Homo sapiens: one gene and its partners. The protein of the gene in region 2 purifies or fractionates together with the protein of the main gene of each other region. This does not show direct contact. Each region holds a gene or a part of one and is shown on either strand. Other genes may lie near its edges. The genes, in order: TMEM214, CSGALNACT2, SLC30A6, TMX4, STX5, KIAA2013 and MCOLN1.

Region 1 (3,115 bases), on a different chromosome or scaffold from region 2:
CAGCCGAGGACCCTGAACCTGCTGCAACAGGCCCTGGTGGGAGGGGAGCAGGAGACAGTTGTCAGAAGCGAGGGGCTGGTCTTTGCCTCTGAGGGCAGACCTCAAGCCAGGCCTTCCCGAAAGAGCGTCAAGCCTTCACATTATCCTGGAGGCAGCGGGGGGCTCCAGACAGGTGGGGCAGGAATGTGATACAGGCCCAACCCAGGTGTGCTGAGACAGAGATGTAAGATAGCGTGTGGGCTGGAGAGGACCGGGTGCCAGCACCTTGCAGGCCATGTCACAGGTGACGACATCCTGGTTGTTACTGCTACCCTTCCTCAGCAGCTCCTGGTTGGTAAGCTTGAGGGACTGAATGGTTTCTTGCAAAGACTTCTGTACCTATGGACAAGAAAGGTCTGGCCTGTGAGGGAATCCAGAGCTTCCATCCTGCTTCATTTTCCATGCCAACAGGGTCCCTTCTCAGGGAAGGGACAGTGGCTGAGGAGCCCCCACTCAGAACCTAGAATCCAGACAGGGCTCAACCTGCCACGTCCTCCCAGCTCCTCACCTTCTTGGGAATCTGCTCCCAGGAGCTGAGCAAGTGCTCCAGCAGAAGGCTGTGGGGAAAGCACAACCCCCTAGTCAGGTGGCTCGCGCAGCCTCACCCATCCTCCTGTCCTCCATTAGCCCTGGCTCCTTCAGGCTGAAAGACCCTCCACCTACCACCCACAGAGCAGCAGCTTCCTAGAGGCTGCTCCAGCAATGTTCCCACTCAGCCTGAAAGGTGTCAGGCCATGGGACAGTGACCCAGGCTCCCCTTCTGCTTCTAGCACAGGGACAGGCTGGCCTCCCACCCCACCTGCCTGGACTGTGACAGGTGCTTAGGGTACAGCTGCCTCCAGACGCTGGCACTGAGGGGGTCCACCGTCAGGCACTCAGTCAGGCTGCTCAGGAGCTGCACAGCACGACAGAGGGAGAGGCTGCTGGGGGCATGGGGCTGGCAGAGGCGGGGAGTGCTAAGAGGTGATCCCCTTCCCGTAAGCAAGGCCATCCAGGCCGCACATCCACCCTAAGGGGTGGAGAAACAGTGTCAAGACTCCAGAAAGCTCTCTGAGAGGCTGTAAAGCAGGAGGCTGGGGCTCCTGAGCTAGAGCTTTGAGCTCAAAGATCACTATCTGCAAGAGACGGGCATCAGAAACCACCCAGACCTGAATGTGCTGTCTCTTGGGATCCATCTTCTGAGGGTGAAGCTCGAGTGAGCGGGGCAGGCAGCTGTCAACAGGGAGCTAAGGAAAAGCCTCAGAATGGGCTCTGTGAAGGCAAGGCCTTTGTCAGCAGATAGGGACCGCTACAGCTGACCCCTGGGGAAGGAGAAAAAGCCTCCCACCATATCCTCACCTCTTTCTTCATCTCAGGGGGACAGCTAGGGGTGGCTCTGGACAGGAAAGAAGGGAAGTAGGTATGCAGGGTGGAATCCGGCTTTGCTCCAAATGCCAGCACTTTCAGTCGGGGGTAGAGCTGACACAGCTGCTCCTGCAGGCTGGGTGGGGTGGGGAGGAAAGACAGGCATAAGCTATAAGTGGAGCTGTATGATATGAACCTTTTGCTTGCTTCAGAGCCCATGCCTGCCTGTGGGGAATAGCCACTGAGGACCTTGCAATGGCTCTGAATCTTTTTACTCAGAGACTCCTTGGAAATCTGTTGAAAGCCATGGACCCTATCCCTAAGAAAATGCCCATATGCCAATCACACTCAAGGGTCCATATAATTTCAAGGGGTCACTGTTCCCTTGAAACCTACTCTTGAACTTCCAGGTTGCAAATCTCAGATCTAGGATGGCTGGGGAAGGAGAGACGGGAATATGTAGTGTGGTTCTGGTGCTGTGGTCCCTTCTCAGCAGGTGTGCCCCAGAGCAGTCCTACCTGGGTGTCAGGGAGTTGTTCGGCATATAGGCAAAGTCCAGAAGTGGGAAGAAGTCCTTGGGGCCAATCATGCCGAAGCCCTTGGTAAGGTTGGGATGCATCCTGTGGGGATGAAGAAACAGGCTCGCTGGACACCACCACCCATGCCAGCTGTTTTGGCCATGACCCCAGCTAAGCCAACATCTAGGAAAAAGGGTATAAACTCTACCCCATCTGCCAGCCCTTAATAGCTCCCTCTTCTTCCTTCCTCACCATCACATTCTAAGGTGGTGGGAGAAGCTGGTCCTGATTTTCCTCATATCCATGGAGACCAAGATCATAGCCTCCCATTTTGCTATAACAGCCACTTGGGACACCCTGAGCCTTCCCCTTGCTGCCCTCCCATTACTCACAGGAGCAGCCGATCCAGGTATGTGATGGCAAAGGGAGACAGAGACTTGATGCCCAGCACAGGCAGCATGATCCCCAGCCACACTGCAGGGGTAAAAGTCACGAGGGAGGCCTCAGGCTTGCACCTACTGGGGGCATCAAAGAGGAGTTTTCCAGCTCCGAGACCCTCCCTCTTTCTTCCCTATTTCCCTGTTACCTTTCAGTCCCTCGGTGAGGTTGGCAAAACCTGCTTGACCCAGGGCCCACATGATGGTGAGACACTTTGCTGGTCGGCTCTGGTGGGACCTCAGCAGTTCCAGGAACTGAGGAGACCGGTGGGGAAGGCAGATTGGGATAGGACAAAACACCAGGAGCACCCCCCAAAGCCAGGAGGGAAGGGAGATGTCAACTGGAAGAGGGAGGACAGGCCGAGCAAGAGTGGAGCACTATGGCCACGTGGTGCAGGTTCTGTTTGTGGGCTTCGCCCATACTCTGCCATTTACTGGATGACTGAGCCTAGGAAAGTTACTGAACTCCTCTGTGGCTCAATCTTTTCATCTATAAAAATGGGAAATAATAGCAGTACCTTGCTCCTATGTTTCCAGAGCACACACACAGGATAGGTGCTAATAGTGTTACCCATTATTACTAGGCTTACAGGTCTTCCACTATCCCAAACCTGAGTCCAACAACATAGATTCTGCCCAGCCTCCCCAGTCCTAGCTTCCTAGCATCCCCACCATCACTGAGAGCTCACCTTGCCTAGGTTTGCCGTGGCAATCTTGGGCTTGTCTTGCAGGATGGCCTGGATACAGATGCGGTAACCATGTAGTGACTCCCCTGGA
Region 2 (3,500 bases):
AAAGTTCTTCCCTAAGGAACTGACTTTATTTAAAATAGAATGTAGAGAAGTTCAGAGTTTAGAGAAGTTCCAGCCTCTTGAAAATAATGGAGATTTTGGTAGTAAGCAATTAAGAGGAGGCTGGTAACTCCAGGAGGGCAACAGCTAAACTGTAGGCCAGCTAATTTACTAGAGAGAACCACAGAGAGAGATAGTAAGAATATACCTCCTGGGGTCTGAACAAATCTCAAAGACTTGCTGCAAAAACTATCCCTGCAAAAGGGCCCAATTTAGTAGGGACAGATTATGGAGCAATTTATGCCCCAGAGCATTGTCAAAAACAAGACAGCAATTAGTGAACAGTCAGTGGAGTCTAATAGGAGTGATACCAATGGAGGCATGGAAAGAGATAAAGAGAGCCCTGCTAAATCCAATGCCATCCTAGGATAACTGCACAGGCCCTGAGGAGCAACAGCAGAGGCTTCATATTGCCAAAAGGTCGGGGAAGGAGGAAGAAATAATTTGTTAAAATAGTCCAGCCATGTCAATAAATAAATAAACAAGGAAAAAAAAAAACCAAGCCGTGGTGGTAGAGGGAAATCAGTATCCAGAGTTGCCACAGTGTATTACCTAAAATGTCTAGTTTTCGAAAAAGAAATAATGAGGAATGCAAAGAAACAAGAAGATGTGACATACGCTTAAAAAAAAAAAAAAAACCGGCAAGCAACAAAAACTGCCTGTGTTAGGGCCCAGACATTAGCTTTAATACACAAAAATTCCAAAGCAGCCATTGTAAGTATGTTCAAAGAATTAAAAGAAGTCACACTTAAGGAAGTAACAGAAGATGACAATGTTTCATCACATAGAGTATTAATAAAGAAATTATATATATATCAAAAGAACCACATAGAAATTCTGAAGTTAAAAACTATAGTAACTGAAATAAAAATTCATTAGAGTAGCTCAACAGTAGATCTAACAGAAAAAACAATCAGAGAACTTGGATAGATCAATAGAAATTATGCAATCTGAAGAACAGAGGGAGAAAAGAATGAAGAGAAATAAACAGAGCCTAAGAAAAATGTGGGATACCATTAAATGTACCAACATACATACAGTGAGTGTCAAAGGAGAAAACTATGAGAATGGAGCAGAAAAAGTATTCAAAGAAATACAGTCAGCCCTCCATATGCATGAGTTCCACATCCCATAGAATCAACCAACATGGTTCAAAAATATTAGGGAAAAAAACGATAAAAAATAACAATAAATATAAAAATTTAAATACAATATAACAACTATTTACATAGTATTTACATTGTATTAGGGTTTTTTTTTTTTTTTTTTGATGGAGTCTCACTCTGTTGCCCAGGCTGGAGTGCAGTGGTGCAATCTCGGCTCACTGCAAACTCCGCCTCCCAGGTTCATGCCATTCTCCTGCCTCAGCCTCCCAAGTAGCTGGGACTACAGGCGCCTGCCACCACGCCTGGCTAATTTTTGTATTTTTAGTAGAGACAGGGTTTTACCTTGTTAGCCAGGATGATCTTGATCTCCTGACCTCGTGATCTGCCCGCCTCGGCCTCCCAAAGTGCTGGGATTACAGGCGTGAGCCACCGTGCCTGGCCTGTATTAGGTATTATAAGCAATCTAGAGATGGTTTAAAGTATATGGGCAGATATGCACAGGTAATATGAAAATATGTATATTTACATAAGGGACTTGATCGACCATGGATTTTGGTTCCACATGGTATCCTGGATCCAATCCCATGCAGGTACTGAGAGATGACTATAATGGCTGAAACTTCCCAAATTTGATGAAAAACATTAATGTACATATTCAAGAAGCCCAAGAAACTCCATAACCCAATTAAAATGGGCAAAGGATCTGAACAGACATTTCACTAAAGATATACAAATGGCCAATAAACACATCAAGAGATGCTCAACAACATTAATCATAAGAAAAATTATAATCAGAGTCACAATCAATACCACATCCACTATCATGGGTGATACTAGAAACAAAAAGATAATAACATGTATTAATGAGGATGTGGGGAAACTGGAACTCCTAAACACTGCTGGTGGGAATGTAAAATGATGCAGCCACTTTGGAAAACGGTGTGGCAATTTCTCAAAAGGTCAAACACAGGATTACCATATGACCCAGCCAGAGTCCTGGGCATATGTCCAAGAGAATTGAAAATCTATGTCCACCCAAAAAGTTAAACACAAATGTTCACAGCAGCAGTATTTATAATAGCCAAAAAGTAGAAACAACTCAAATGCATATAAACTGACAAATGGAGAAACAAAATGTGGTATAACCACACAATAGAACATTTTTTGGCTATAAAAAGGAATGAAGTACCTAACATGTCACAACATGGATGAACTTTGAAAACATTATGTGAGTGAAAGAAGCCAGTCATAAAAGGCCACATATTGTACAATTTGCTTTCTATTAAATTCCCAGAAGAGGCAAATCTATAGGAAGTAGACCAGTAGATGCCTAAGTTTGGGGGGAAAGAGGGTTGGTAGGATGTGAGGAGTGATTGTTAATGGGTATGGGATTTCTTTTTGGGGTGAAATGCTCTAAATTTGATGGTGGTGATAGCTACATGACCTGGTTAACCGTACACTTTAAATTAATAAATTTTATGATATGTAAACTATATCTCAATAAAATTGTCATAAAAAAGAGATAAGGAACTCAAAGCATTCAAGATACTGAAAAAATGTACACAAATCTATTTTTGAGGAATAGTGAAATGCTGCTTGCTTAACTAAGCAAGAAATCAAGGAAAAGAGCATCAGTTTAATTTAACGCCCCTTTTATTGTTATTTCCTGATTTTCCATTATTCAAGTGTTACAATGATAAGGAGACAAGGTGGGGGGATTTCCAAAACAAAAGGCTGGTTATAAAAACGAATGTGATATGGACCTAGAATGTATATAAAATATATTCTATGACTTCTATGCTGTAGAAAGGTAGCTAGCCCTAAATGAATCAGAAGACATGGAATCAGGTTTCAGCCTGCTTTATTAAACTATTCTTTGACACTTTATATTTTGCTGGGTAAGACTGAAGCTAGGGGCTGGGCATGGTGGCTCACGCCTGCAATCCCAGCACTTTGGGAGGCCAAGGTGGGCAGATTGCTTGAACCCAGGAGTTCAAGACCAGCCTAGGCAATATAATGAAGCTCCGCCTCTACAAAACAAACAAAAAAATTAACTGGGTGTGGTGGTGCACGCCTGTGGTCACAGCTACTTGGGGATTGAGGTAGGAGGATCGCTTGAGCCTGGGAGGCAGAGGCTGCAGTGAGCCAAGATTGTGCCACTGCTCTTCAGCCTGGACAACAGAGCATGCAGGATAGTTAGAACAAATTATTCATGGGCCATCTTTAGGCTTAGGGGAATGCATGACTAAGGTGTGATTCCAAGACGCGCTAGAAAGAGCAGGTCTTCTTTCATTTGTATTAAATACTGGGATTTTGTGTAACAGTTCACTAGACAAG
Region 3 (3,500 bases), on a different chromosome or scaffold from region 2:
GTAGCTGGGACTACAGGCATACACCACCATGCCTGGCTATTTGTATTTTTAGTAGAGACGGGGTTTCACCATGTTGGCCAGGCTGGTCGTAAACTCCTGACCTCAAGTGATCCACCCGCCTCGGCCTCCCAAAGTGCTGGAATTGCAGGCATGAGCCGCCCCACCTGCTCTCTAATTACTGTTATGTCTCTAATTATTGTTGTTTGTGTGTTTGTTCTATGTTGATAATTTTACTTATTTAGTAGATTACTTTCCTTTAAGCAAAGAAAACTTCTTCATAATCTACTTTTTCTCTCCATAGATTTGCCTGTTTTGGACATTTCATATAAATGAAATCATAAAATATGTGGTCCTTTATGACTGTCTTCAAAGCATAATGTTTTTATTGTTTTCTTGTAAGATATCAGTAGTTGCTGTTTTTATTGCTGAATTGTATGGCTATACCACATTTCTACCAAGTTCCTTATTAGCTCCAAAACATTAAGATTTCCTAAAAACTTACCTAAAAAGATCAAAAATGGTCAGGTAAGTATAGGCAGTTAAAGCTGCAAAACAACAAAAAAATGATTAAAAGTATTACTGACCCCTCTAAAAAAATACAGCAAGTTACCAAAATTATTTCTACCAGGGGTATCCATTATCAAAAAAACTTTTGAGTCACGGGCCAACCTCATATATTGGCAGTTATCTAGTAAATCTGATAAATATATGTAGCCAAAGTTCGTTGGTAGAAAAGCTTACTTCCCAACCTGATTTCTCCATTAGGAAAAATGAAGCAATGAATGTTCAAAAGCCCTGTTACCATTTTTCTGCCTGCTTCTGTAATCTCAGCGCTATTTCAAATGTATTGTTTGAATAACTGAACAAAAGAACAATGCAATAAAAAACATAAAAAGATATAAGAAAAAAATTACAGAATTCCCTTTTTAAGGAAAAGCCAACAAACCTCAAAATCTAACTTACAAACTGCATAAATTAAAGTTTTAATCTATTATATTAAAAACAAATCTCCAGCCAGGCACGGTGGCTCACGCCTGTAATCCCAGCACTTTGGGAGGCTGAGGCGGGTGGATCATAAGGTCAGGAGATCGAGACCATCCTGGCCAACATGGTGAAACCCCATCTCTACCAAAACTACACAAATTAGCCAGGCGTGGTGGTACGTGCCTGTAATCCCAGCTACTTGGGAGGCTGAGGCAGGAGAATCGCTTGAACCAGGGAGGTGGAGGATGCAGTGGGCCAAGATCACACCACTGCACTACAGCCTGGCAACAGAGTGAGACTCCGTCTCAAAAAAAAAAAAAAAAAAAAAAAATCTCCAGATAGATTTAATGATTTTTCAAAAAATAACAGCTTATTTAAAATGAAAATGGCCAGGCATTGTGGCTTACGCCTGTAATCCCAGCACTCTGGGAGGCCAAGGTGGGTAGATCGTTTGAGCTCAGGATTTTGAGACCAGCCTGGGCAACATGGCGAAACCCCATTTCTGTTTTAAAATATATTTTAAAAGGAAAAAAACTTAAAAAAAAATTACAATCCTAACAAATGAACAAAAGTTTACAGTTTACAGGGAAGTTTTAAATATAGTCCCTTATTTAAATCATTTGAGTTATATACATTTCAGAATAATATATTCTATGTAAGATATACCTTTATTTCCAATGAGAAAAATAAAAGTAAAAATAACAACTCCATAAAAATACAAAGGTGACATACCTATACTATTAGTAGAACTGCACCACATAAGCAGGAAGCCAGTACATATCAAGTTTATTACACCAAAGAGCAGTATCTTCCAGGACTGTGAAAATAAAAATCACTCTTATGTGTACAGAAGTGATAAATTTCACGGGGTCTGTTCAAGTTGCTACAATTTATACTCTGATATTCAAAGGAATAAACATAACTTCCTTCAAAAAGTCTGTGTCACACTTTCTACATCTACCAAAATTGTCATCGGCTAAGTTATTACAGTATACAAGTTTAAAAGAATAGTTCCAGAAGGAGAGTTGTTCAAGAGAAAATAAATTCTGACATAGAAATTCTCAAATAGTTGAGAAAAATACACATACATATGCATATCGTTTTGTCTCTATAAGTACATATTATAGAGACAACGATGAAGCAAATGGGGCCAAATGTAAGCAACTGGTGAATCTGAATAAAGGGCATGATGATGTTCCTAAAAGTTAGTAATCTTGTCCAGGTGCAATGGCTCACTCCTGCAATCCCAGCACTTTGGGAGGCCAAGGTGGGTGGAGGTCAGGAGTTCAAGATCAGCCTAGCCAACATGGTGAAACCCCGTCTCTACTAAAACAAAAAATCAACCAGGTGTGGTGGCAGGCACCTCTATTTCCAGCTACTTGGGAGGCTGAGGCAGGAGAATCGCTTGAACCAGGGAAGCAGAGGTTGCAGTAAGATGAGATTGTGCCACTGCACTCCAGCCTGGGCGACAGAGCGAGACTCTGTCTCAAAAAAAAAAAAAAAAGTACTGACTTTGGCTGTTCAACATCAACCAAGTAAGGTGAGAAATAAGGAAAAATCTTCATTTTGGCAACACAGAGATTTTTGGTTACCTTGTAAAAGCTGTTTATGTGAATTAGTGGGCACAAGTACCTAACTGGTATGTGTTTAATAAAGATGAGGAGAAGAGAAGGTGAACACAATGTACTGATAATTCTTTCAAGTAGGTTTGCTACAAAAGGAAGCTGAGAAATGAAGCAGCCCTGAGAGTGGAACTTATAACATGTAATTACGATGCAAGAAAGAGGAGAATGATGCATGATGCAAGAAAAACAATGATGTAAGAAACAGAACAATTATAGGGACATCATCTTTCAGTAGGCAACAAGTGAAAGGATTGCCTTTATAGAGAAGAACTGAAAGCTTGTCCAGAGAAATAGGAGGGAAGGCGGAGTGATGGCTGATGTGCTAATGATAGGATGTAGAAGTTTTCTTCTGATTACTTCTTTTCCCTTGGTGAAACAGGAAGCAAGATCATCAGGTTAGGGTGAGGATGAAGAAGGTATTAGAAGCTTGAGGATAGAAACGAAAGAACATCGTATGAAACAGCCATCTAGGAAATTGGAAAATTGAATGAACAAAGGAAATATAAAATGAAAGAGCACTAATAGGCAGCACTTAATAGGCAGCACTAATGGTCTGTCTGATCATGAATTCAAAGTGAGACCAGTCGCATGGTTTTGTTTCTCTCAGGTTACATTCAGTTGCTTAGATGCAAGTAGAGTAGAAAGAAAGTGAACTTAATGAAGGTTAGGGATTTTCCAGGAATTAAGACAGAGGGAAGGGGAGCACAAAAGAGTTGAGAACATATAAAAGAAAATGATACTAGCTGGGAGTGGTGGTGTACCCCTGTAATCCCAGCTACTCAAGAGGCTGAGGAAGGAGGATCCCTTGAGCCCAGGAGTTCAAGACCAGCCTGGATAATTTAGCAAGATTCCATCTCAAAAAAAAAAGAACAAAAAGGAGGGAAATGATAA
Region 4 (3,500 bases), on a different chromosome or scaffold from region 2:
AGCCGTTTTGCTTGGATGAAAGACTTCACCACTGATTTAAGAAAATAAGACCTCGACACAGTAGTTACAGGTTACTGTTCAGATTATGCCCTTCTACATGACGACATTACCACTGGAAACCCCACATGAGAGTAGTTGCATGGCTTAAGAAAAAAAGTGAAATTATAAATGTACTTATAAATGTTTGTTTTCCTATTGCTTAAAAGCTGTATTTTTATTCTTAACCTCTCTGCAAATATAAACGTTTTATTTAAGATTACTTACCCATATCTTGCCAGAGATGCTAAAAAGACCAGCCATTCCAGACATCCTTAAAAAAAAATAAAGAGAAGAAACAGTGATCATATATACTATAAAAAAAAAATGAAAATCAGGTCAGGAGGACTGGTCTATTTCCCTCCACTTCTTGCTAAATATTGCCCCCTCTCCCAGATTCATATCTGTTCTTACAGAGCTTAGATTCAGTGGCTATCATTTGAATCACTCTGCTGTAAATCTATTCCAACTCCTTGGCCCTTTCTCCTTTCATTGTGCCTACCCGGCAAAAATCTCAACACTGAGCAGCTGAATGTCTCCAGGGAAAAAACATCACATAACCAGATGACAGTTCTTTCTGCTTCATAGTCCCAAACCTAAGTGGACACGTAATACTGTCCAGCACTTTCTAAGCTCTAAGAAAATAGCTCATTTCCTTTTCCTTCTCTTCAAAACGTACACATCTTCCCATCCCCATGTACTCAGCTAACAAGCACTCCTCATATGTCACTGTGAAATCAGAAGCCACCATGTGCTTTCTCTCATCTTCCCACTACCAAATCTGAGCCTGGTGTCCACCTGCATCCACCTTCTCTTGTTATGACAGGAAAAGTCTAACTCTCTTATCACAGTCCAATTCCTCCACTTGTGCCTTGGATCCTATCCATTTTGTCTTATTAGGACTTGGTTCTTTCTCTCATCCTCCCTTCCTGCACGAGCAACTTCTCTCTCTCTCCTAGAACAGTCTCACTGGCATATGAACATGCTCTACTCTCTTTTACCCTTTAAAAAGAGTATCCCTGGACCTCACATGACCCTCCAGCTTCACAGATAAATTTCTCCAGATTACTCTACACATGCTGTTTCTTCTCTACTGTACCTTTAATCGATTAAAATCTGGCTTCCACCCTCACCACTACAGGAACAGATTGTCAAGGCCATGATGACCTCACCATGTTTCATTCAATGTCCATGTCTCAGACCTGATCTCCCTTCGCCTCTTAGTAACATGGGATACAAGAGACTACGCCCTTCTTCTTGAACACTCATTTGGCTTCTGGAAAATGGCAGACCTTGGTTTTCATGTTGCCTCTCTGGTACTCATTTTCAGTTTCCTTTGGCTGACTTCTCAACACAGTTTCTTAATTTGGGGGTGGCCCATGACTCATCCCCAAGTACTCTTCTCTTTTTCCTTCTTTCTAGGTGTTCCCCTCACCTCAACATTGTCTGTAGGTTTTTTTGTGTTCCTGAATTCTTCATGGGGACCCATTTCCATGCATCTGATATGCTTTGAATCTGTATCCCCACCCAAATCGTATGTTCAATTTGTGAGATATGATAAGGTTTCCCTTCAAATAGCCTAATCAATCTTTTAATTCAGAGTTAACCACCCCCTCTTTTTTTCCTTTTTCCTTTCTGCCTTTGTTAAATGCGCAGGCATGCCACAATACCAGCCATTATCAGTACCAACTCACATTCCTTTCCTTATTTAAAAAAAAAAAAACAACTTTCTGACTCACTACAGACACCCTTTCCCCTTTCCTCTTTCTTCTATGTGCCCACCTTATCTAAAAAAATTCAAATGTTTAGCCAACTAAAATTAGTTTATACACCTGACCCCAGCCAATAAAAAAAGGATACAGGGGCAAGACTTGCGTCAAAAATAAAGGCTCTCGTACTCCTTTGTTCAAGTGTGCTCTCATGGCGACTGGCCAAAAAGGCACCTCTCTGCGCAAAAATAAAATTGCTTTGCTAAATATCCTTTGTTCAAGTGTTCAATTTCTTAAAATTGTAAGCATTATTCCTAACAAATTGTAATCCCTAATGCTGGAGGTGGGGTCTGGTGGAAAGAGAGTGGATCATGGGGGCGGATTCTCATGAATAGTTTAGCACCATCCACTTGGTGCTATTCTCTTGATAATGAGTGATCTCTCAGGAGATTTGGTTGTTTAACAGTGTGTGGCACCTCCATCCTTCTCTCTTGCTCCTACTCTGGCCATGTGATGTTATGTGCTTCCCCTTCGCCTTCCACCATGATTATAAGTTTCCTGAAGCCTCCCCAGAAGCCAAGCAGATGCCAGCATCATCCTTCCTGTACAGCCTGTAGAACCATGAGCCAATTAAACATCTTTTCTTTATAAATTACCCAGTCTCAAGTATTCCTTTATAGCAATGCAAGAATGGACTAATACAGCATCCACTGTGACAGTTCTACAAAGTCTGCATCTCAAACCCAACAAGATTTATACAGAATCCTTAATTTTCTCTTGCCCAAGGCAATAACAAGTACCAAGATCCATCATGTACTCAAACCAGAAACTTGTAAGTTTTTATTAATGAATCCTTCTTCTCCTTCACCTTGGCCAAGCCTACCTTCATAACATATTTAAAATCCACTCAGCCTCTCCATCCCCACATCCCCACTGCTGCCACCTGACACAAGCTACCACTCTAAGCCTCAACTCACTTCATCCATTCTTGCCCTCTCCAATCTCCTCTCCTAAGGGTCACCTTCTCCTTGTGTGTGCTGATCACTTCCAACTTCTTTCCTGTGGCCACAGGCCCTGCATGACCTGGCTTCAGCCTGCCCCTCTTACTCAGCTCATCCTACATTCCCTTTCACTATGCTTGACCCTGGTCACCATTCTGCTCCTTAAGTACACCAAGCTCCTTTCCAAACTGGGGCTTATGCATATGCCATACCCATTCCTGGGAATAATCTTCCCTCTGCTCTTTGCCTAAGCTAGTTCCTTCTATCATTCAGATCTCACCTAGAGGCGTCCCTTCAGAGAAATGTCTCCTACTCCCTCCATCTAGAAGAGCAGGTCCATAACCCCAGAGCTATCCCATCTTTGTAAAATATGTTGTTGTGTTTTTTATCCACCCTCATCCCAACTATGATTCTCTGTACCTGAGGTGAATGTCTGTCTTGTTCAGTGTTGAATACCTAGCACCTAGGAAAGTATCTGGCTAAATCAGTGCTCAAATGGTTGTAGAATGAAATGTGAGAGTTGTTTTTAGAGTAAGCTATGTGTTTCCTTAATATTAATATAGATGCCACTAGATGATTTACTCCTGAAATATTGCTTGATTTGCTCCTTTTTCAGTAGGGAAATTTCTTACACTTGTATATACTAACATAAAATTATCTATATATATGACAATCCATTCAAAACTAAAACCAACTGTGGAAAAAGCTGTTATGGTTTGGCCTAATCTACCTCACCAAGTATTATACAGTTTGC
Region 5 (3,500 bases), on a different chromosome or scaffold from region 2:
TGCATAAATAAATAAAGTTAAATGTATTTGGCCAGTTGTGATGGCTCACACCTGTAATCCCGGCACTTTGGGAGGCCAAGGTGGACAGGTTACTGGAGGCCAGGAGTCCAAGACCAGCCTGGCCAATGTGGCAAAACTCTGTCTCTACTAAAAATACAAAAAGTAGCCGGGCATGGCGGTGCACACCTGTGGTCCCAGGTACTCGGGAGACTGAGGCATGAGAATCACTTGAACCTAGGAGGTGGAGGTTGCAGTGAGCCAAGATCATGCCACTGCACTCCAGCCTGGGCGACACAGCAAGGCTCTGTCTCAAACACAGAAAAACTAACCCCTGCAATGGCTCCCTATGTCACTCAGAGTAAAAGCTAAAGCCTACCAATGGTCCCAAGAGGTCTCACAGTTCCCCTCTGACCACACCTTGTACAACTCTCTTCCTCATTGATCCCAGCTGCAGTAGTCTCTGCTGTCCTTTAACTCATCAAACATATTGTCACCTGCGGGCCTTTGCCAGGGTCTATGTAGCTAATTTCCTCACCTTCTCCCAAGTGTGATGCCACCTTCTTAATAGGGCCTACCTCCCTCCAAACCTGGCACTCCTGATTAGTTTATCCTGTGTTGACTATCTTTTTTTTTTTTTTTGGCATTTACGACCTTTTTTTTTTTTAACATACTATTTATTATGACTTTTTCACATCTATCTCCCTATTAGGATACACGTTCCACAAGGGCAAGGATTTTGTCTCTTTTGTCCACTGCTATATTCCCATAACTGACTGACTGAATGCTAAGCACCACAGAGGAGGAGCAGATAAAAACTCTTGTAGTAGCAGGAGGCACCAGAGGAACAGAGAGGCCAGCCCATTGTTGGGCCTCTGCCTACATCCCTCCAGTACACCCTGTACTTCTCTATCCCTGTTCATTACTTTCTAGCCACGCAGGCCTTCTTGATTCTTGCTATGGTGAGACTGTCCCATCACAAGGCTTTGCTCTAGCTGTCTCCTCGGCCTAGAACACTCTCTGTTCTTTGCCTGGTTGGATCCCTCTTGTCATTCAAGTCTCTGCTTAAATGTCATGTCTTCAGAGCAGCATTCCCTACCACACAATCTGATATACCTACTTAGTCACTTTCTTTTTTTTTTTTGAGATGGGGTCTTGCTCTGTCACTCAGACTGGAGCGCAGTGGTTCCATCATGGCTCACTGCAGCCTCAACCTCCCATGCTTAAGTCATCCTCCCGCCTCAGCCTCCCGAGTAGCTGGAACCACAGGCACACGCAACCATGTCCAGCTAATTTTTTTATTTTTGTAGAGATGGGGTTTCACCATGTTGCCCAGGCTGGTCTTGAACTCCTGAGTTCAACTGACTGTGTGGGCCTCCCAAAGTGCTGGAATTACAGGTGTAAGCCACCGTACCCATCCATTACTTTCTTAACACATCATCCTATTTTAACTCTGTATACAGCCTTTATTACTCCCTGAAATTTTGTTGGTCAATTTTTTATTTTTATTTTTTTGACACAGAATCTGGCTCTGTCACCCAGGCTGGAGTGCAGTGGCACGATCTTGGCTCACTGCAACCTCTGCCTCCCAGGCTCAAGCCATCCTCCCACCTCAGCCTCTCGAGTAGCTGGGACTACAGGCCCATGCCACCATGCCCAGCTAGTTTTTGTATTTTTTTGTAGAGACAGGGTCTTGCTTTGTTGCCCAAACTGGTCTTGAATTCCTGAACTCAAGCGATCTGCATTGCTCGGCCTCCCAAAGTGCTGCCTATGGGATTACAGGTGTGAGTCACTGTGCCAGCCTTGTCAGTTCTTTTCCACAGCTGTCCTCATCTGCCCTATCAAATTCCATACACTTACACATGCTACAAAGCAGCTCCAGACAGACTTTACTGTTCTACTTGCCACTGTATCTCCCGCACCTGGAACAGTGCCTCACATGAACAGGTGCTCAATAAAAACTTGTTGGGTGGATGGAAGCAGGTGAACTGGGTCCCATGGGTGGGCAGAATTCACTCTATCTTCCAAAAGGCATCAAGCAGTCCCTGGGGACTTTAAGATGCCAATCCACGGGGAAGAGAAAGCTCCTCTGTTTGGGGCGAGAGAGTGTATCTCACCTCTGAATGGTTTCCTCCTGTTCCTTAACCATGTGTGCCAACTGCTGAAAGATGGAGCCCAACTCAACAATTGTCGACTCAATGTTCTGCATGGTGTCTGCCCGACTCTGGATGTAGGAATCCTTCAGGAGAGGGAGAGAGCACATGAGCACCAACAGCTTCTTCAGGGTCAGACCTGCATTTTTACAACCCTCCCAGCTTGCCATTCTGCCCATGGCACACTCCAAACACTCTCTCGGGAACCACAGAGGATAATGGAGAAGCTGATTCTACCTAGTTCAGAGCCTGGGTACCTGCTCGTCAATGAGCTGCAGCTGCTGGCTGGTCCGAGAGTCCATCATGTCGATGGCGACATCCTTGGAGGCATGGGACTCTGCCCCCAGAACCACAGCACCACCGCCTGGGGGAGAAAACAGGATGTGGCACACCTTAACAGTTAAAAGCAGGTTCAAAGCCCACATGCTCTGGGTTTGAATCCCAGCTCTAGCACTTACTAGCCTTGTGACCCTGGACAGGTCATTTAACCTCTCTGAGCCTCAGTTTCCTCACCTGTAAAATGGGGGATAATAATAGTTGCTTTCTCAAAGGGTGGTTGTGAAAATTAAATGAGAGAATGTGAATAAAGTGTACGAAAAAAAATTAGAAATTATCATTATTCTGAATATAACTGAATTCACCCCAACAGTGAGAATGTGGGAGTCTAAATGTGGATCACGAATCTCAACCATCTGGTTTGGCCTCTGAGAGATAAAGCCTAGAAAATTCCTTGACCTTCCACTCTCCTACCCAACCCGTGCCTTTAGAGGATGCCATCACAACCAGAGTAAGTAACCTTACCTCCCAGGGCTCCCCGTTTTACCTGTGACTTACCCAGGTGGTTAGGGGCAAGGGGCAGGGCTGACACAGGTGCCCGGGAGAACTGCTCTCTCCGGCTCCTCTGCTGCTTCAGGTTCTGGGGTTGGGGAAAAACGCAAAGGACCTGAAGCCACTAGAAAGCAGGCATGTTAAAGAGACTCCCACCATTGGCCCCATGACCCTGTAGAACTTGTCCCTTCTTCATTTCCCTCTTGGATCTTTACTCCCATATTCCTACCCCTCCTACGCAGATTGTTCTCACCTCTGTCCTCACTTCTAAAACCGATTTGAAGTCATTGGACATAGAAGCCAGTTTCGACTAGAAGAAAAGGAGAGAGGGTCAACCAAAGAAGGCTCCACATTCTTCCTCTTTGCCTCCCTCCCTTCCTCCCCAGGTCCCACCTGCAAGGAGACCACAATGGTGTTGGAGTGGGTCTGCAGGTGCCGGCCACTCTGGCTGCCCTTGGCTCTCACGAAATCCTGGAGCTGAGCAATTTGTTTGTTGAGGCTATTGATGTCCTGGTAAAAGAG
Region 6 (2,168 bases), on a different chromosome or scaffold from region 2:
ATGCTAAGATGCTGCCCCGATGACAGTCTTGCAGCAATGATGGCCAAAATCACCGCTTCCAGGGGCAAACATGTCTCAGGAAACTTGAGGGCAATGCTTCTGTCCTGTGTCCTATGCTAACGAGATGGCCACTCTGGTCCGAGGCCTGGAGCAAGGGGCTGACCTCTGCATGCCATGAACAGGCACATGGGGGGAAGCTGGGGATCCCGCCAGCAGTTCAGACAGAGGCTTCAAGTCAATCTAGGGGCTTGTTGCAGTTATTTTTATTTTATTATTATTATTATTTATTATTTATTTTTTATTTTTTTGAGACAGAGTCTCACTCTGTCACCCAGGCTGGAGTGCACTGGCATGATCTCGGGTCACTGCAACCTCCGTCTCCCGGGTTCAAGCAATTCTCCTGCCTCAGCCTCCCGAGTAGCTGGAATTACAGGCATGCACCACCATGCCCAGCTAATTTTTGTATTTTTAGTACAGATGGGGTTTCACCGTGTTGGCCAGGCTGGTCTTGAACTCCTGACCTCAGGTGATCTGCCCGCCTCAGCCTCCCAAAGTACTGGGATTATAGGCATGAGCCACTGCACCCAGCCTCATTATTATTATTTTTAGACAGGGTCTCACTCTGTCACCTGGGATGGAGTGCAATGGTGTAATCACAGCTCACTGCAGTCTCAAACTCCTGGGCTCAAGTGATCCTCCCACCTCAGCCTCCTAAGTAGCTGGGACTACAAGCGTGCACCATCACGCCTGGCTGATTTTTAAATTTTTTGTAGAGACAAGTCCTCGTTATCCTGCCCAGGCTGGTCTCAAACTACTGGGCTCGAAGGATCCTCCCACCTCGGCCTCCCAAAGTGTTGAGATTATAGGCATGAGCCACCAGGCCCTGCCTCTAATTTTTTTTTTTTTTTTTTTTTTACTTTTATTTGCTTTTTTGTTTTTTGCTTTTTTGAGACAGGGTCTTGCTCTGTTGCCCCAGCTAGAGTGCAATGACACAATCATAGTTCACTGCAGCCTCAAACTCCTGGGCTCAAGGGATTCTCCCATCTCAGCCTCCCAAGTAGCTGGGACTACAGGCACAAGCCACCACACCCAGCTTGCAGTTATTTTTAAATGCTGAGATTTATGATGCGGGAGGAGGGGAGGGCTGCCCTGGAAAGCCAGAAGACCATCAATTCACACCTGGATTTCCAGCTTTCCCTTCCTCGTCGTCTCCTCTCAAAACACTTGTGCGCGCTCTCTGGTGTCAAGGGCTGAGGGCATCAGGACACCCATTCCTGCCCAGGCCTCACCCCCCCTCGCCAGGCTAGCCCCTTCCGAGACACAGGGCTGAGAGCAAGGCCAAGGCCTCGGGTTTCGACCAGATGGCGGCTTCCTACCTTACTCCTGAAGAGGGGCTTGGCTCCAGGCCCACAGTACTCGTTGTAGATGAGCTTGAAGAGGAAGAGGTGGAAGAGGGTGATTAGGGAGGCCACGCTGAACCAGAAGAGGAAGGGCAGCCCGGGGTCCTGCTGGGCCATGTGCTCATCATGGGCCAGGATGGCCTTGAGGTGCAGCGTGTGCCGCAGGTCCTGCAGGTGTGTGAGGTCGGTGGAGATGTAGAGCAGTGGCGTGATGGGCTGTGTCACCATGACCGAGAAGGTGTGGCCCGTGGGCGCCGAGGTCAGCTCCACTGGCTCGTCCAGGCAGCCTGCCTTGCAGGCATAGATCTTGACAGGCTGGCCACGGGACTCCACGGACACGTGTAGGTAGGGCTTGCCCTCGGCATCCGCCAGCACGGCCAGGTTGATATGGTCGTTCTTGTAGCGGATGCCATGCAATGCATAGCTGTTGTGCAGCACGTCGGGGTCGGCCTGGAACTGGAGGTGGTTCTCTGTGAACTGCAGCCCCCCAAAGCTGAGCACCATCCCCTGCAGGATGCCTGGGGCACCCACCTTCACCAGCCCCTTGCAGCCACGCTTCTGGAGGGTCAGCCTCCACAGGTCAGAGAGCTGCAGGATCTGCTGGACGGAGGACAGCCGCCCCGGCCACAGGTTCTCGGCGTGCATGGTGGCGTGCCCGCTGAAGCAGTGATCTTCATAGTTGAGCGTCGACTCCATCTGGTCTCGCTCCCTGTGGCTCAGGGAGGGGCTGAGCAGTGGGGCTGGCGAGCAGGAGAGCATGTAATAGAG
Region 7 (3,500 bases), on a different chromosome or scaffold from region 2:
GATAGTTCTCCCTCCCCCATGCCAGACCCTGTGCTGGGCTCTGGGAACCCCAAGATGAATCAGACCCAGCCACTGCCCTAAGTGCTTACTTCATGTTTTGGGCTGACTTTAGCATGTCACCATGCCTCTAATTTTCCCTCTGAAAAGGGACCCAATTGTCCAGGCATGGTGGCTCATGCCTGTAATGCCAGCACTTTGGGAGGCTGAGTTGGGTGGATCATTTGAGGCCAGGAGTTTGAGACCAGCCTGGCCAACATTGCAAAACCCCGTCTCTACTAAAAATACAAAAATTAGCTGGGTTTGGTGGCAGGTACCTGTAACTCAGCTACTCAGGAGGCTGAGACAGGAGAATTGCTTGAACCCAGGGGGTGGAGGTTGTAGTGAGCTGAGATCATACCATGGCACTCCAACTTGGGCAACAGAGTGAGACTCTGTCTCAAAAAAGAAAAGAAAAGGGACCCAGTCATGGTACTTACCCTGAAAGTTTGGGTTTAACACAGAATCGGACATCCAGTAAACATTTAATGAACGTTAGTCCCTGCAGTGAGATAGATGAGTCCCCACCCTGTGTTGTACGGGGGAGGACACAGTGGTGGGCGTGGCATGGAGCTTATGCCAGGAGGTGGGGTGAAATTAATCAAAGCAAAGAAATGCACAAGTGAAATCCGTGTTTGTGGCCCAAGTTAGCAGGGCCCTGCCCCACCCCAGTGGACATCTGCAGGGCCCTCCCTGTCCTCTTCCAGGGCCTGTGCCCTGAGGGAGATACACCCCAACCCCCATCCTAGCCATGCCAACCTCTACTACCCTCTCCCCAGCTCATCCTGTTTGGGCTCAGTAATCAGCTGGCTGTGACATTCCGGGAAGAGAACACCATCGCCTTCCGACACCTCTTCCTGCTGGGCTACTCGGACGGAGCGGATGACACCTTCGCAGCCTACACGCGGGAGCAGCTGTACCAGGCCATCTTCCATGCTGTGGACCAGGTGCTGGTGGGCGGGCAGGTGCTGGTGGGCAGGCAGGTGCAGGTGGGCGGGCAGGTGCAGTTGGGCGGGCAGGTGCTGGTGGGCGGGCAGGTGCAGGTGGGTGGGCTGCAGAGAGCGGGCCGGACTCACAGGCCCTCCCCTTCTCTGCCCACAGTACCTGGCGTTGCCTGACGTGTCACTGGGCCGGTATGCGTATGTCCGTGGTGGGGGTGACCCTTGGACCAATGGCTCAGGGCTTGCTCTCTGCCAGCGGTACTACCACCGAGGCCACGTGGACCCGGCCAACGACACATTTGACATTGATCCGATGGTGGTTACTGGTGAGTGGGCAGGACGAGGCTTCACTGTTGGGAGCCTGAGCTGCTGGGATTAAAATCAACAGCTGTGGCTGGGCACGGTGGCTCACGCCTATAATACCAGCACTTTGGGAGGCTGAGGAGGAAGGATTGCTTGAGGCCAGAAGTTTGAGACCAGCCTGGGCCACGTAGGAAGACCTTGTCTCTACGCACAAACAAATTAGCTGGGCGTGGTGGCGTGCCCCTGTGGTCCCAGCTACTCAGGAGGCTGAGGCAGGAGGATCGCTTGAGTCCGGGAGGTTGAGGCTGCAGTAAGCTATGACCACGCTGCTGCACTCCACCCTGGGTGACAGAGTGAGACCCTGTCTCAAAAAAAAAAAAAAAAAAAAAAAACAAGTATGCTTAGTGTGAGTGTGACTCTTGCCACGTAGAAAGCACCAGATGTTATATTTTAATATGGCTCATTCAGTAAAACATCCGCAGGCCCAGAGAGTGCCAGGCCTGTAGGAATGACCCAACCCTGGGGAAGCACAGGGAAGAAGGCCACTGGGGACTCTGGGGAGACCAGCCTGGCCTCCCCGGCCCCCTGAGGCCCTTCCCTGACTCCCTGTCCTTAGACTGCATCCAGGTGGATCCCCCCGAGCGGCCCCCTCCGCCCCCCAGCGACGATCTCACCCTCTTGGAAAGCAGCTCCAGTTACAAGAACCTCACGCTCAAATTCCACAAGTACTGCCTGCTCACTCGAGGGGGGCCCAGGGTGGGGGAGGCAGCACACTAGGCACTCTCACCCCAGCAACTACTTCCCTAAGGTGGGGACAGGGCCCCCCCGCCCGCGCTGGTGCCTGCTGGGTGAGCACTTCCCCTGCCAGCTGCAGAGTCAGCACGTGGCAGGGGACGCTGGCACTTGGGGCCGGAAGGGACCCGAAGACGCCCCTGACCCTCACCCGAGCCTCCTGCCTAGGCTGGTCAATGTCACCATCCACTTCCGGCTGAAGACCATTAACCTCCAGAGCCTCATCAATAATGAGATCCCGGACTGCTATACCTTCAGCGTCCTGGTGAGGCCCCCCGGGAACCCACAGGGCTCCTGAGTTCCAGGGCAGGGACCTGGTCAGGGAGTGTCTTGGGAGCACTGGCCAAGGGCAAGCGTGCGGGTGATGAGGGAGGGAGCCCGGGGTCTGTCAGGCCACCTGTCATGTGGACCTTGGGGCTTGGGGCTGCCAAGGTTTACTCTGCCCCCAACTGGCCCCCACAGATCACGTTTGACAACAAAGCACACAGTGGGCGGATCCCCATCAGCCTGGAGACCCAGGCCCACATCCAGGAGTGTAAGCACCCCAGTGTCTTCCAGCACGGTGAGCCCCTGAGCCCCAGACCAGCACTGACCAGGGGCCCTGGCCTGTCCTGGGATTCCCCAAGCCCCAGATCAGCGCTGCCTGGGGGCCGTGACCTCCCCAGGAATCCGCTGAGCCTCAGATCAGCACAGACCAGGGACCCCGTCCTGTGCTGAGATCCCCCAAGCCCCAGACCAGCACTGACCGGGGTTCTTGACTCACCCCAAGCAAGCCCTGAGCCCACTGACCAACCAAAACCAGCCGTGCAGCCCCCTAGGTCTCCAGCCTGGCCTGGCACCAATGCTAGCCTCCCAAGGCTCCATGCCATCCTTGGCCCTACCCGCTCTGCCCTCCCCGCAGGAGACAACAGCTTCCGGCTCCTGTTTGACGTGGTGGTCATCCTCACCTGCTCCCTGTCCTTCCTCCTCTGCGCCCGCTCACTCCTTCGAGGCTTCCTGCTGCAGAACGTGAGGCTTCTGCGTCATGTGTGCTGGTGTCCTCCCCGCCTGGCCCTGGGGCGATAAAAGCCAGGGCTTTGAGGGTCCTGTGCCTGGTCAGGCCCTCACCCCGCCTGCCTTCTGCAGGAGTTTGTGGGGTTCATGTGGCGGCAGCGGGGACGGGTCATCAGCCTGTGGGAGCGGCTGGAATTTGTCAATGGCTGGTACATCCTGCTCGTCACCAGCGATGTGCTCACCATCTCGGGCACCATCATGAAGATCGGCATCGAGGCCAAGGTGCGTCCTGCCAACACCCTGGGCCCCAGGTCCCATCCCTGCTGTCAGTGCCTATCCGGGGCCATATCCTCCCCCAGGCCCCCCAAAGGAAGGGCTGGGCCAGATAGGTTGACGCAGCTCCCACCCGCAGAACTTGGCGAGCTACGACGTCTG

Evidence for each region.
Region 1: the proteins of CSGALNACT2 (region 2) and TMEM214 purify together in Homo sapiens (co-immunoprecipitation; 3 studies listed by BioGRID and IntAct, with this or other methods). This does not show direct contact.
Region 3: the proteins of CSGALNACT2 (region 2) and SLC30A6 purify together in Homo sapiens (affinity purification with mass spectrometry; 2 studies listed by BioGRID and IntAct, with this or other methods). This does not show direct contact.
Region 4: the proteins of CSGALNACT2 (region 2) and TMX4 purify together in Homo sapiens (co-immunoprecipitation; 3 studies listed by BioGRID and IntAct, with this or other methods). This does not show direct contact.
Region 5: the proteins of CSGALNACT2 (region 2) and STX5 purify together in Homo sapiens (co-immunoprecipitation; 3 studies listed by BioGRID and IntAct, with this or other methods). This does not show direct contact.
Region 6: the proteins of CSGALNACT2 (region 2) and KIAA2013 purify together in Homo sapiens (co-immunoprecipitation; 3 studies listed by BioGRID and IntAct, with this or other methods). This does not show direct contact.
Region 7: the proteins of CSGALNACT2 (region 2) and MCOLN1 purify together in Homo sapiens (affinity purification with mass spectrometry; 2 studies listed by BioGRID and IntAct, with this or other methods). This does not show direct contact.

What each region holds. Positions count from the first base shown.
Region 1 is NC_000002.12:27,035,965-27,039,079, reverse strand, and holds part of TMEM214 (transmembrane protein 214), read right to left. Parts: intron 3,111-3,115; coding exon 3,028-3,110; intron 2,594-3,027; coding exon 2,488-2,593; intron 2,376-2,487; coding exon 2,294-2,375; intron 2,004-2,293; coding exon 1,902-2,003; intron 1,520-1,901; coding exon 1,378-1,519; intron 1,291-1,377; coding exon of another isoform or gene 1,279-1,290; exon of another isoform or gene 1,266-1,278; coding exon of another isoform or gene 1,188-1,265; intron 1,049-1,187; coding exon of another isoform or gene 935-1,048; coding exon 843-934; intron 597-842; coding exon 548-596; intron 379-547; coding exon 265-378; intron 34-264; coding exon 1-33. UniProt on the Homo sapiens protein: Critical mediator, in cooperation with CASP4, of endoplasmic reticulum-stress induced apoptosis. Required or the activation of CASP4 following endoplasmic reticulum stress.
Region 2 is NC_000010.11:43,176,445-43,179,944, reverse strand, and holds part of CSGALNACT2 (chondroitin sulfate N-acetylgalactosaminyltransferase 2), read right to left. Parts: intron 1-3,500. UniProt on the Homo sapiens protein: Transfers 1,4-N-acetylgalactosamine (GalNAc) from UDP-GalNAc to the non-reducing end of glucuronic acid (GlcUA). Required for addition of the first GalNAc to the core tetrasaccharide linker and for elongation of chondroitin chains.
Region 3 is NC_000002.12:32,172,364-32,175,863, reverse strand, and holds part of SLC30A6 (zinc transporter 6), read right to left. Parts: intron 1,802-3,500; coding exon 1,717-1,801; intron 546-1,716; coding exon 503-545; intron 1-502. UniProt on the Homo sapiens protein: Has probably no intrinsic transporter activity but together with SLC30A5 forms a functional zinc ion:proton antiporter heterodimer, mediating zinc entry into the lumen of organelles along the secretory pathway.
Region 4 is NC_000020.11:7,995,762-7,999,261, forward strand, and holds part of TMX4 (thioredoxin-related transmembrane protein 4 precursor), read right to left. Parts: intron 311-3,500; coding exon 265-310; intron 1-264.
Region 5 is NC_000011.10:62,822,052-62,825,551, forward strand, and holds part of STX5 (syntaxin-5), read right to left. Parts: intron 3,489-3,500; coding exon 3,372-3,488; intron 3,289-3,371; coding exon 3,232-3,288; intron 3,067-3,231; coding exon 2,985-3,066; intron 2,515-2,984; coding exon 2,408-2,514; intron 2,237-2,407; coding exon 2,115-2,236; intron 1-2,114. UniProt on the Homo sapiens protein: Mediates endoplasmic reticulum to Golgi transport.
Region 6 is NC_000001.11:11,921,260-11,923,427, forward strand, and holds part of KIAA2013 (uncharacterized protein KIAA2013 precursor), read right to left. Parts: coding exon 1,377-2,168; intron 1-1,376.
Region 7 is NC_000019.10:7,525,624-7,529,123, forward strand, and holds part of MCOLN1 (mucolipin-1), read left to right. Parts: intron 1-815; coding exon 816-983; intron 984-1,137; coding exon 1,138-1,303; intron 1,304-1,896; coding exon 1,897-2,005; intron 2,006-2,240; coding exon 2,241-2,337; intron 2,338-2,534; coding exon 2,535-2,634; intron 2,635-2,973; coding exon 2,974-3,080; intron 3,081-3,197; coding exon 3,198-3,347; intron 3,348-3,477; coding exon 3,478-3,500. UniProt on the Homo sapiens protein: Nonselective cation channel probably playing a role in the regulation of membrane trafficking events and of metal homeostasis. Acts as a Ca(2+)-permeable cation channel with inwardly rectifying activity.